Regions from separate parts of the Homo sapiens genome. Here region 2 is linked to region 1. Evidence: fine-mapped expression QTL. A gene starts in region 1. The other region holds a variant in brackets. All regions are shown on one strand. Distances are from middle to middle. Region 1 holds the start of DNAH17-AS1 (DNAH17 antisense RNA 1). Region 2 overlaps DNAH17 (dynein axonemal heavy chain 17).

Region 1 (5,000 bases):
CAGATGTGGACCTAGGGCTGAAGCTTAAGAATGTGGAGGCTCCTCCTTGAGGAAAAGAAAGCAAAAATCTTAAACAAATTTTACAAGGGCACATGACCGTGTGCAACCCTTGGAAGGGGCCTCGCGAGTTGCAGGGAAACCGAGGCTGAGCCGCCACAGCCCTCACAGTAGACCTGCCTGCAGAGAGGAACGGGTGGGCTCTCATGCATGCACCTGTCCTCCTCTCCTGTCTGGGTACCCTCAAATCTCCCACCCCACACCACGTTAGGTTCTCCTCAAATGATGTCAAACTCTCTCCAGGCTCCCTCCTCAGAGTGGCAGCTTTGTCACCTCCCCCAGGGAGCCACCTCTGATGCCTCCGTCCCCACATCACAGCCTGCAGCCCAGAGTAGGCTTCCTATAGTCGTGAGCTCTGGGAGTGTCGTTTAGTGAGGAAAAGGCAAGTGATGGAGTCAGACATATCTGAACTCAAAATCCAGTTCTGGCTGAGCGTGGTGGCTCACGCCTGTAGTCCCAGCACTTTGGGAGCCCGAGGCGGGCAGATCACCTGAGGTCAGGAGTTAGAGACCTGCCTGGCCAATATAGTTAAGCCCCGTTTCTACTAAAAATACAAAAATTAGGTGGGCATGGTGGCAGGCACCTATAATTTCAGCTACTTGGGAGACTGAGGCAGGAGAATCGCTGGAACCCAGGAGGCAGAGGTTGCAGTGAGCCAAGATCACGCCATTGGACTCCAGCCTGGGCAGCAAGAGCGAAACTCTGTCTTGGAAATAATAATAATAATAATAATAATAACCCAGCTCCGCCACTCATTAGGACCATGACCTCAAGTAGACTACCTAACCCCCCATGCCTGCCTTTCTCGGCATGAGGCCAGGCTTCATGAACGAGCAGACTAGTTTCTAGGCTCTTTTGGCCTGAGCTACTTGCTTATTTTAAGAGACAACTATGGCTGGGCACGGTGGCTCACACCTCTAATCCCAGCACTTTGTGAGGCCAAGGCGGGCGGATCACCTGAGGTCAGGAGTTCGAGAACAGCCTGGCCAACATGGCGAAACCCCTTCTCTACTAAAAGTACAAAAATTAGCCGGCGTGGTGGTGGGCACCTGTATTACCAGCTACTCAGGAGGCTGAGGAAGGAGAATTCCTTGAACCCAGGAGGCGGAGGTTGCAGTAAGCCAAGATCGAGCCATTGCACTCCAGCCTGAGAGACAGAGCGAGATTTCTCCTCAAAAAAAAAAAAAAAAAAAAAAAAAAAAAAGACAACTGAACTGAATGTTCTCATCTTTCCAAACTGCAAACCTAAACGTGCCACCTTTGGTTTCTCGGTGCCGTTAGGAGAAAATCTGCACTCTGTCCCGAGGCCCTGGGATTCTGGCTGCAGCTGCCCTGGGCACCCTCTGCCTCTGGCTCTCACATCCTTGCCACACCGGCCTTCCTGGGCTTCTTCACGTGTGGCAGGGCATTTACACGTGGCAATCTCTCCACCCAGAATGCTCTCCCTCTAAGGTCCCACAGCCAGCAGGACACTGCTGCCAGCTTCCAGCTGTGCACCATCTCCCCAGGGGCATCTCTCTGCTGGGGCTCCCAGCTGGGAGGCTCCTCTGTGACTGCACTGGGGGTTTTCCTCAGGGCTCTTCCTTTACCGGGTAATGTGCTTCTTCCTCTCCCGGCGGGACAGACACCTCGGTGGAAGGGGGGAAGGAGGATCCCCCCCTCCGCGGGGGCTCTAGGCCACTGCTGCATGTTTGTGAAATGGGTGATGGACGAAACTGATAGAACCTCTCCCCTACCCTGGCCCTACCTCAATGCCTTGTGGCCCCACAAACTTGGGGGCCCAGCTACGACCCGTGTCTCCCTACCCACGTTGCAGCACCCCCCCCACCGCCCCACACCAGTCCTGCCCTACTGCCCTGGGGCTCCGCCTCTTCCTGCGCCCCGCCCTGGCCCCGCCCTCACCGCCCCGGGGCCACGCCTTCCCCTCCGGCCCCGCCCCGTCTAACCAGTGCCGGTGGTCCATGTGCTGCCGGATGAGGGTGTGCGGGGCCACCGTCCCATACTTGTCCACCTCGGGCATGTTCATGTCGTCGATGAAGTAGACGAGCTTCTTAGTGCCTGGCGGCCCGTAGTTCCTCCCCGATTTCTTCTCCAGCGGCTTCTCCAGCACCCCTAGAGAGGGCAGAGGGTCAGCTGCCCGCCTGCGCCTCCTGAGCCAGAGCCTGTTAGGTAGGGAGGGGCGCTACCTGCTTCCCCGGAGGACAGAAGGTGGGACCTGGCTGGGATCCAAGTTTACCAAAGGTACCTGCCCTGGGAGTGGCCCTTGAGGGGGCACCGGGTACAGCCCCAGGAATAAACAGAGCGATCAGAGGCGAGGGTGGCAGGAACCTTGCTCTCCGTCACCTTTGGGTCGCCTTAGATTGGCTGAGACACTCCCGGGGGACCTGCTGCCTCGACTGGCCATCAAAACCCCATCACCATGCCCACAAGGGAGCACCAGAAAGAGGGGTCCCGGCTGCTCCTCCTCTGTCTCCGACTCAGGAAGGAAAGGCCAGCGGGTGGGGCATGGGAAGTGAGGAGGTGCAAAGTGGCTAGTGAGTGCCTGGGCCTGCAGTGAGAGGGGACAGGAGGGAACGGGGACTGGCGGGGGGCAGCCGGGTAGGCAGGGCGTGGCCGGACCAGCCTCACCCTGCAGCATGGCTGAGGTCGTGTAGAAGTTGAAGGGCACAGCCTGCACCAGGTAGTTGTCCGTGTTCAGGCTTTCCAGCTTGTCCCCCATCAGCACCGACTTGCCCGTCCCCGCGTTCCCCACCAGCATCACCGGCCAGGACTTCTCCATGAGCAGGTCCATGAAGTAGCGGATGCGGATGGTTTCCGTGGTGTGGACCAAAGAGGCCTGGGGCAGGGGAGGGAAGGGGAGGGAGCTGTGATTCTCAGACACTTCTGCCTCTCGTGGGTGTGCAGGCCATGTTCTACCGAACAGGTCCTAATGTTGAAAATCGGTTGTGTTTGGACATTCCGTGCAGGCGTGTGGAGGGTACTGCACCGATTCCTGCCTCTAAATCACCAGTCGGTGGCCCTGCTTTGGGGACAGTTACCTGCAGTGGGACATCGGGATCCAGCTCAAAGGAGGGCACTTTATCTGTCCAGGGCAGGAACTTTTTTGTGTCAGGATCAATGTAGTAGTCAAAAATCGTTCCCTGCGAGGGGAACTTGATAGTCTTGAATTCGTTGATCCACCATTTACTGAACTCCACTCGATAATCCACAAGCTGTTGAGACACAGAAGTAAAAATCAGGGCCCAGCTAAGCAGGATGCTGAGAGACCCTGTGTGGGTGGCCGGGCCCCCCAGGTGCATCACCTGGTCCTGGAACATGGCGCCACCGAAGGCCCAGAAGCAGGTGAACACGAAGTACAGCTCGTACAGCTCCCTGGGGGAGTCGGGGGGCACGGTCTTCTCCGTGAGCAGGCACTCCAGCAGGTACAGAATCGTTTGGATCACCGTGATCTCCGGCACTGGCGTGATCTTCTTGAACCCAAAGCGCAACTTGTCCAGGCACGTGGGCAGGTACTTGTCAAAGAGGATCATCAGGTTGGCCTTCTCCGACTGCACCTTGCGCCTCTCGATCCAGCTGCTCACCACCCTGGGGGTGACAGGAGGCGCCGATGACACAGCCGCTGCTCTGGGTCTGCCAGTGTCCCTGCCTTGGTAAACGCCCCTCCCTACCTCCACCCAATTCTGCTGGGGCTGCCCTCAGGGTCACCATGCCTGCATGGCAATGGGTCCAAACGAGGGTGCCAGAGGGGCCAGTTGCAGGCCCTGAAAGGGTCGGAGGAGGATGCCAGGGTCGTGGGGGCTGTGCCCTCTCTGGGGTTGCTAGCTATGGGGGTGCTGTAGGTCTAGAACAGTTGGAAGCCATTCTTGCTACCACACGGGAAGCACATACCAAGGGCTGGTGGATGGGGCAGAACAGAAAAGGAGAAAGATCTCATGATGTCATGTGGGGGGCACGAAGGTGGGGACAGTAAGGGAGCAGAAAGGAGAGACAAGGATAGGAGCAGGGACATTTCATTACATCATCTGGACTCCTGAATCCAGCCATGCCTGAAGCACCCCTTGGTGCTTTTTTTTTTTTTTTTTTTTTAAGCTTCAGTTAGTTTGAGTTGAATTTGCCATGTTCAGTGTAAGAGTACAAATCAATACAACCAGCAATCCTTGAAGAGCCGTGCCAGACTGTTGGCCACAGACATCTCTGGGTGGCTCGTGTGGAGGTGGCCCACCACGGCGGTGAGGGGTGTGGACTCTGGGGCCTGACTGCCCAGGCTTGAGTCAGCTCTACCATGGCCAGCTGCTGCTTTAGGCAGGTTACTGCACATGCCTGAGTCCCTGGTTTCTCATCTGTAAACAGGGGTGATGTTTCCATGACCCTCATTTCCAAGGACTACATGGGCTGATATTTTTAAAGCTCAGAGAAGGGGGCCTGGTCCAGGGTAAGTGTTGCCAAATCAGCATCTGCTGAAAGCATCACTAGTGCCTGGCCCCCTCGAGTGCCAGTGAGCTCAGCACGTGCATCATTTCCAGGATGCCCAGGGCCTAAGCAGGAAGCTCCTGTTAACACACACAGCCAGCCTGCCCTGCGCTGACCGGCAGACGTGCCTCTTTAGACAGAGACTCATTTTTTTTCTTCTTCTGAGATGGAGTCTTGCTCTGTAGTGCAGGGGTGCGATCTCGGCTCACTGCAACTTCTGCCTCCTGGGTTCAAGCAATTCTCCTGTTTCGGCCTTCCAAGTAGCTGGGATCACAGGCGTGCACCATCACACCTGGCTAATTTTCATATTTTTAGTAGAGACAGGGTTTCGCCACGTTGGCCAGGCTGGTCTTGAACTCCTGACCTTAGATGATCTGCCCGCCTCAGCTTCCCAAAGTGCTGCGATTACAGACATGAGGCACTGTGCTTGGCCAGACACACACTCTTCTGTGAGTGTGCTCTGGGGGAGCTCC
Region 2 (5,000 bases), 73 kb after region 1:
CTTTCCTATCTCTCTAGCTACCGATCTATCTATCCATCCATCCCTCCATCCTCCCATCTGTCTATCCCATTGGTTCTGTTTCTCTGGAGAACTCTAACTAATACAATGGCCATGAGCCCAGGAAGGTGCAGCCTCTAGACGCTGGAAAAGACAAGGAGACAGACCATCCCCTTGAGCCTCCAGAAGGAGGCAGCCCAGCGGATGCCTTGACTCCAGCAGAATGAAACAGATCCAGGACTTCTGACCTCCAGAACTAGAAGGTAGGAAATACGTGCCGTTTAAAGTCACTCAGTTTGTGGTGATTTGTTACAGCAGCAACAGGAAATGAACAGTGTCCAGACTGGCCCTGTTGTACTGTGGCTTGGGGTGGGGTCAAAGTTGTATGGTACAAATGGTCGCCTTTCCCAGGGTATATGAGTGGAATCCATAAGAAATGGTGTCTAGAAGGAGGACAAGCACAGTGACTGCCCGCTGAGCCCCACAGCCACGCTCTCCGGGCCCCTCCTGATTGTACAGGGATGTTTGTAGCAGCTTTATTTGTAAAAGCGAAAACTGAAAACAACCCGAATGCCCATCAACAGAGGAATGGATAATAGTGCTATATCCATGCGACACATTGCCACTCAGCAATAAAATTGACTCACGTTTAAAAAGAAGAAGAATGGTGCTACATGCAACAACATAGATTAACTCAAAATAATTAACCGAGTGAAAGCAGACAGAGAAAACAGAACACGTATGATACCATTGCCCTCCGGTTCCCGACTCGGCTTCCAGGGCCTCGTGCCAGGAAGGAGGTGCCCTCAACAAGCCCTGTGTTGCTGGACGGGACCGCCCCCCACCTCCAACAATTACTGGGAAGTTTTTCCAAAGTCAACCTCTTGATTACTGCGTCAGGTCCCTAGATCAGATGGTGCCAGGAATCAAGGCCAAAAAGGAGTTCTTGAACCAAAGAGCTGAGCAGGGACCGCCACCTCCTAGCCCCTCACACACAGCTTCCTCATGATAATCCTACTCTGGGTTCCAGGAAATGCCCATCCAGTCCTCCCCACATTAACAGAAGTAATGGAAGCAATGTTGAATGACTTTAATATTATCCAAAATTTGTTCAGGAGGGTAAATAGATCTATAAAGAATCATGTAATTGGCCAGGCTTGGGGCCTTATGCCTGTAATCCCAACACTTTGGGAGGCAGAGGCGGGCAAATCACCTAAGGTCAAGAGTTCGAGACCAGCCTGGCCAATGTGGTGAAACTGTGTCTCTACTAAAAATACAAAAATTATTTGTATTTTTACTACCACCAGCTGGGCTTGGTGGTACACGCCTGTAGTCCCAGCTACTCAGGAGGCTGAGCCAGGAGAATCGCTTGAACTTGGGAGGCAGAGGTTACAGTGAGCCTAGATTGTGCCACTGCACTCCAGCCTGGGTGACAGAGTGAGACTGTCTCAAAAAAAAAAAAAAAAAAAAAAAAAAAGTAACGTAAGCCAAAGCCCAGTGGGAATAAGATATTCATCACCAGCTGTTCTGAGTCATCACTATCTTTGCTGCTATTTGCATGAATAATGAAGACTGGCTTGAACCATGTCTAAATATTAAAATACACACTAATTTAATTCTGTTCTGCTTGGAGATCTTACACCAGAAGTTGTTGGGTGACAACAAATGCTGGTGTAAGATCTCCAAGTGGAACAGAACAGGACGGCAGGACAGAGATCTCTGACTCCCTGGCTCAGGAATTTATCCCAAGCACATACACATAGCAGGTACTCAGTAAGTATGCAGTGAATGGAAGAATGAATTTGAGTGAATGGGAAGATTTCCCAGGAAGAGCCACATCTCTGAAACACACAAACAAACTTGACAAAAAACCAAAACAATACAAAGCTGCATCAGGAATAGTACCGACTCACCAACTCACCTCATTATACCAGCCAACGATGAGCTCCAGGTTGCCCACAAACTTCCGGAAAGTTTCGTTCTCTGAGAACAGACTCTCCGCACTGTCTGGAATCTCTTTCTGTTGCTGGAAATTCAAATACTTGACTTCTCTCAGAACTGCCACCAACTAAATGACAAACGAAGATCAAAGAACATGTCAGCAGGTCAGGTCAACAGTGCAGTGTTCAAGCAACAGAAATGAGCATCTGCCCTGGGATGTTTTGACAGCCGGGGGGGATCTCAAAGTTGGTGGGAGGCAGTATTTGTTGGCAGGACCAGGACGTTTTCACCCTGTTGGCTGATCCTGAGCCGGAAAGCACTGACATCACCCTCATGGGTGGATGACATCACCCTCATGGGTGGATGACATCACCCTCATGGGTGGATGACATCACCCTCATGGGTGGATGACATCATCATTGCATGTGTATGACATCATTGTCATCACCACGGGTGGGTGACATTATCCTTATGGGTGGATGATGTCATCATTGTAGGTGGATGATATCATCATCACCATGGGTGGCTGACATCATCCTAATTTTCTTATCTCTGTCCTCTCCTACCTACTACCCACAAGTGGTTTGGAGTAAGACTTCGGGTCTTCACTTGTTTCCTCGCTGGAATCTAACCTTCTGTTTTCTCTCTGCTTTCACCCGGTTATGACCCGAGATCAACAACAGGGACATCCCTTCCAACAGTGCTTCTGTCCACAAAGCTATTCTCAAAGTTGAGATAACCTCCATATTGCTGAATCCACTGGTCACATCACGGGCCTCATCTCATGGGATCGCCCAGCCGCTGGCACTCTTTCCTTCTGGGCACACAGTGTCCTCCTGGCTTCCAGGACACTAGACATTCCTGGTCACCATTATTAGTCTCTTTTGATAATCTCAAGATGTCCATGATGGGGAGCCACAGACCTTGTTCCTTCTCAATTTACCCTCAGTTGAATGAGGTGTGATGTCATCCAACGTTATAGCTGCCTTGACCAGCCAGCCCATTTGTCATCTCCGCTGAATGAGGTAATGAGATGTCCAGTGTTGTGGCTACAAGTACCATCTCTGTGTGGGTGGCTCCCACGTTTATGTCTCCAACCCCAGCCTCTCTCGTGACTTCCAGCCTTCTGTATCCACCCGCCTACTCAGCTCCTCTCTTTGGATGTCCAG[G/A]TGACATCTCACACCCAACAAGGCTAAAGCACAGCAGCCCATCCTCCCCTGTGGCCTCTGCCCCACCTGCCCTCTTGGCCAATGGCAATTCTACCTGTCTACTCACCTGACCCTAAAACATTGGGACTGACTCCCCTCTTCCAATCACGCTCCATTTCCAACCTACTAGGAGTCTCCATGGCACTATATTCAAGTCCAGAAGCTCACCACCACCTTCACTGCTGCCACTCTGGTTCCAGCCACCACCTCCCAGCTGTCATCTCTTGCCTGGACTGTGCCAACAGGCTCCCAACTGATTTTCCTGCTCTTTCCTCCAGCCCCAGCTCCGTTCAATCTACGCACCTCACAGCGTGGAGAAGGGTCCTTTACAACTAGAAATCTAATCGCAGCACACCTCTGTCTGACACCCTGCAGGGGCTGCCATCTTGCTCAAACCAAACTCCAAGTCCCTCTGTGGTCCATGGGGCCCTTCCTCGTCACCTCTCATCTCTTCTCCTACGACCTTCCCCTTTGCCCATTCCCCCGCCCCACTGGCCTCCTTGCTGCTCCTGGACTGCACCAGGCTCTCGGGCGCCACCTGGCCTTTTCTTTACCCGCATGCCGTGCTGCAAAGCTGTTCCCTCCATCTCTGCTCAGCGGCACTCTGACCTCCCACAAGTCTCTGCTCACATCTAAAATTGCACCTGCCCCTTCTACCGGCTCTATTGATCTTCTTAACCTGCCCTTCCTGCTCTTCCTTCCGCGGAACCTGTTGCACCTTCTACCATATCATACACTTGACTCCCTCGTGAATGCTAGCTGATCATCCTCCCCGCCCTCCTGCCTGGAGGTAGGCTCTAGGAGGGCAGGACAGACAGCTCTCTGACTGTCTGGATCACTAATTTATCCCAAGCACATACATGTAGTAGGTGCTCAGTAAGTATTTGGTGAACGAAAGAATGAATGTTAGTGAGTGGGAAGATTTCCAAGGAAGAGCCGCATCTCTGGTTTCCCTGCCTTGCCACGTGCAGATTGGGCAGCTCTGGGGCTGTGCTTGTAGGAATTCGGTTCCATCCTCTGCTCATCTGAACTTTCCGGGTTTTAGCCATAGAACCCACATCCCAGAGCCCACAAGTGTGAATTCTCCCCAGTGTGCCTGCCTTGACCAGCCAGTGCATTTATCTAGATTCGGCAAAGACTTTTTCCCCCCCCCCAGTTTCAAATTGTCATTTCTTCTTGGGATCACAGGAACGCTTTCAAGAAGATACTCATTGAAGCTATTGTCAAAGTTGCTTCTGCTTTCCCTCATGTCTTAAATATACCCTGGACACACTTAAGAAGTAAAGCTTTAGGCGAACTGTGATATAAACATCGACCTCCATAAATCCGTGCTGAGGGAACCTTGGCAGGCCCTCCCCCCGCTCCCAAGGAGCCTTTGACGCGGTCCCCACTCCTGGCACCCACCGCTTTGCTGAAGTTGACGTGGATGAGGTTGCTAGCGGCGTCCCGCAGAATCAGCGGCTGCCCCAGGTTAAAGTGGCAGTCCTGGTCCACGCCCGCCACCCACTGCTGGTAGATCTTCTCGCGGTGGCACCTCAGCAGCTCCATCATCTCGTCATACTTCTGATAGGTCAGCTTGGCCTCTGCTCCAGACATGACCCTGGAATCAGAGCGGGAAGGCGAGGCCCCACTGGATATCTCCTGTGGGGTGTCTTCGGCACGTCCCATCGTTGCTGCCCGATCTGGGGTGCCGAAGCGGCCGGCCACCCAATTACTCGAGGCTCACAGACTGAATATGCAAACAAGCAGTGGCCAGACCAAATGTTCAAATGGAACTCCGACCTGCAGTCTGCAGCCACCAGCCCAGGAGGCCAAAATAGAACCCACGCAGCAACTGGCTCCCGACCGCCAGGC

What was found.
Region 2: its variant is fine-mapped to the expression of DNAH17-AS1 in hippocampus (GTEx, PIP 0.99).

Annotation. Positions count from the first base shown.
Region 1 is chr17:78,482,865-78,487,864 of GRCh38, forward strand. DNAH17-AS1 (DNAH17 antisense RNA 1) reads left to right here and starts at 2,046. Exons shown (of 6, transcript NR_102401.1): 1 at 2,046-2,298. DNAH17 (dynein axonemal heavy chain 17) reads right to left here. Exons shown (of 81, transcript NM_173628.4): 45 at 3,360-3,642; 46 at 3,096-3,269; 47 at 2,686-2,893; 48 at 2,004-2,169. RefSeq lists enhancers at 1,559-1,698, 1,729-1,778 and a silencer at 1,849-2,078.
Region 2 is chr17:78,556,190-78,561,189 of GRCh38, forward strand. It overlaps DNAH17 (dynein axonemal heavy chain 17), which reads right to left. Exons shown (of 81, transcript NM_173628.4): 13 at 4,551-4,746; 14 at 1,919-2,065. Among named protein-coding and RNA genes, the nearest start is that of DNAH17, 19 kb to the right of the region's middle. RefSeq lists an enhancer at 1,738-2,937. The variant G/A (reference allele first, on the strand shown) is at 3,108.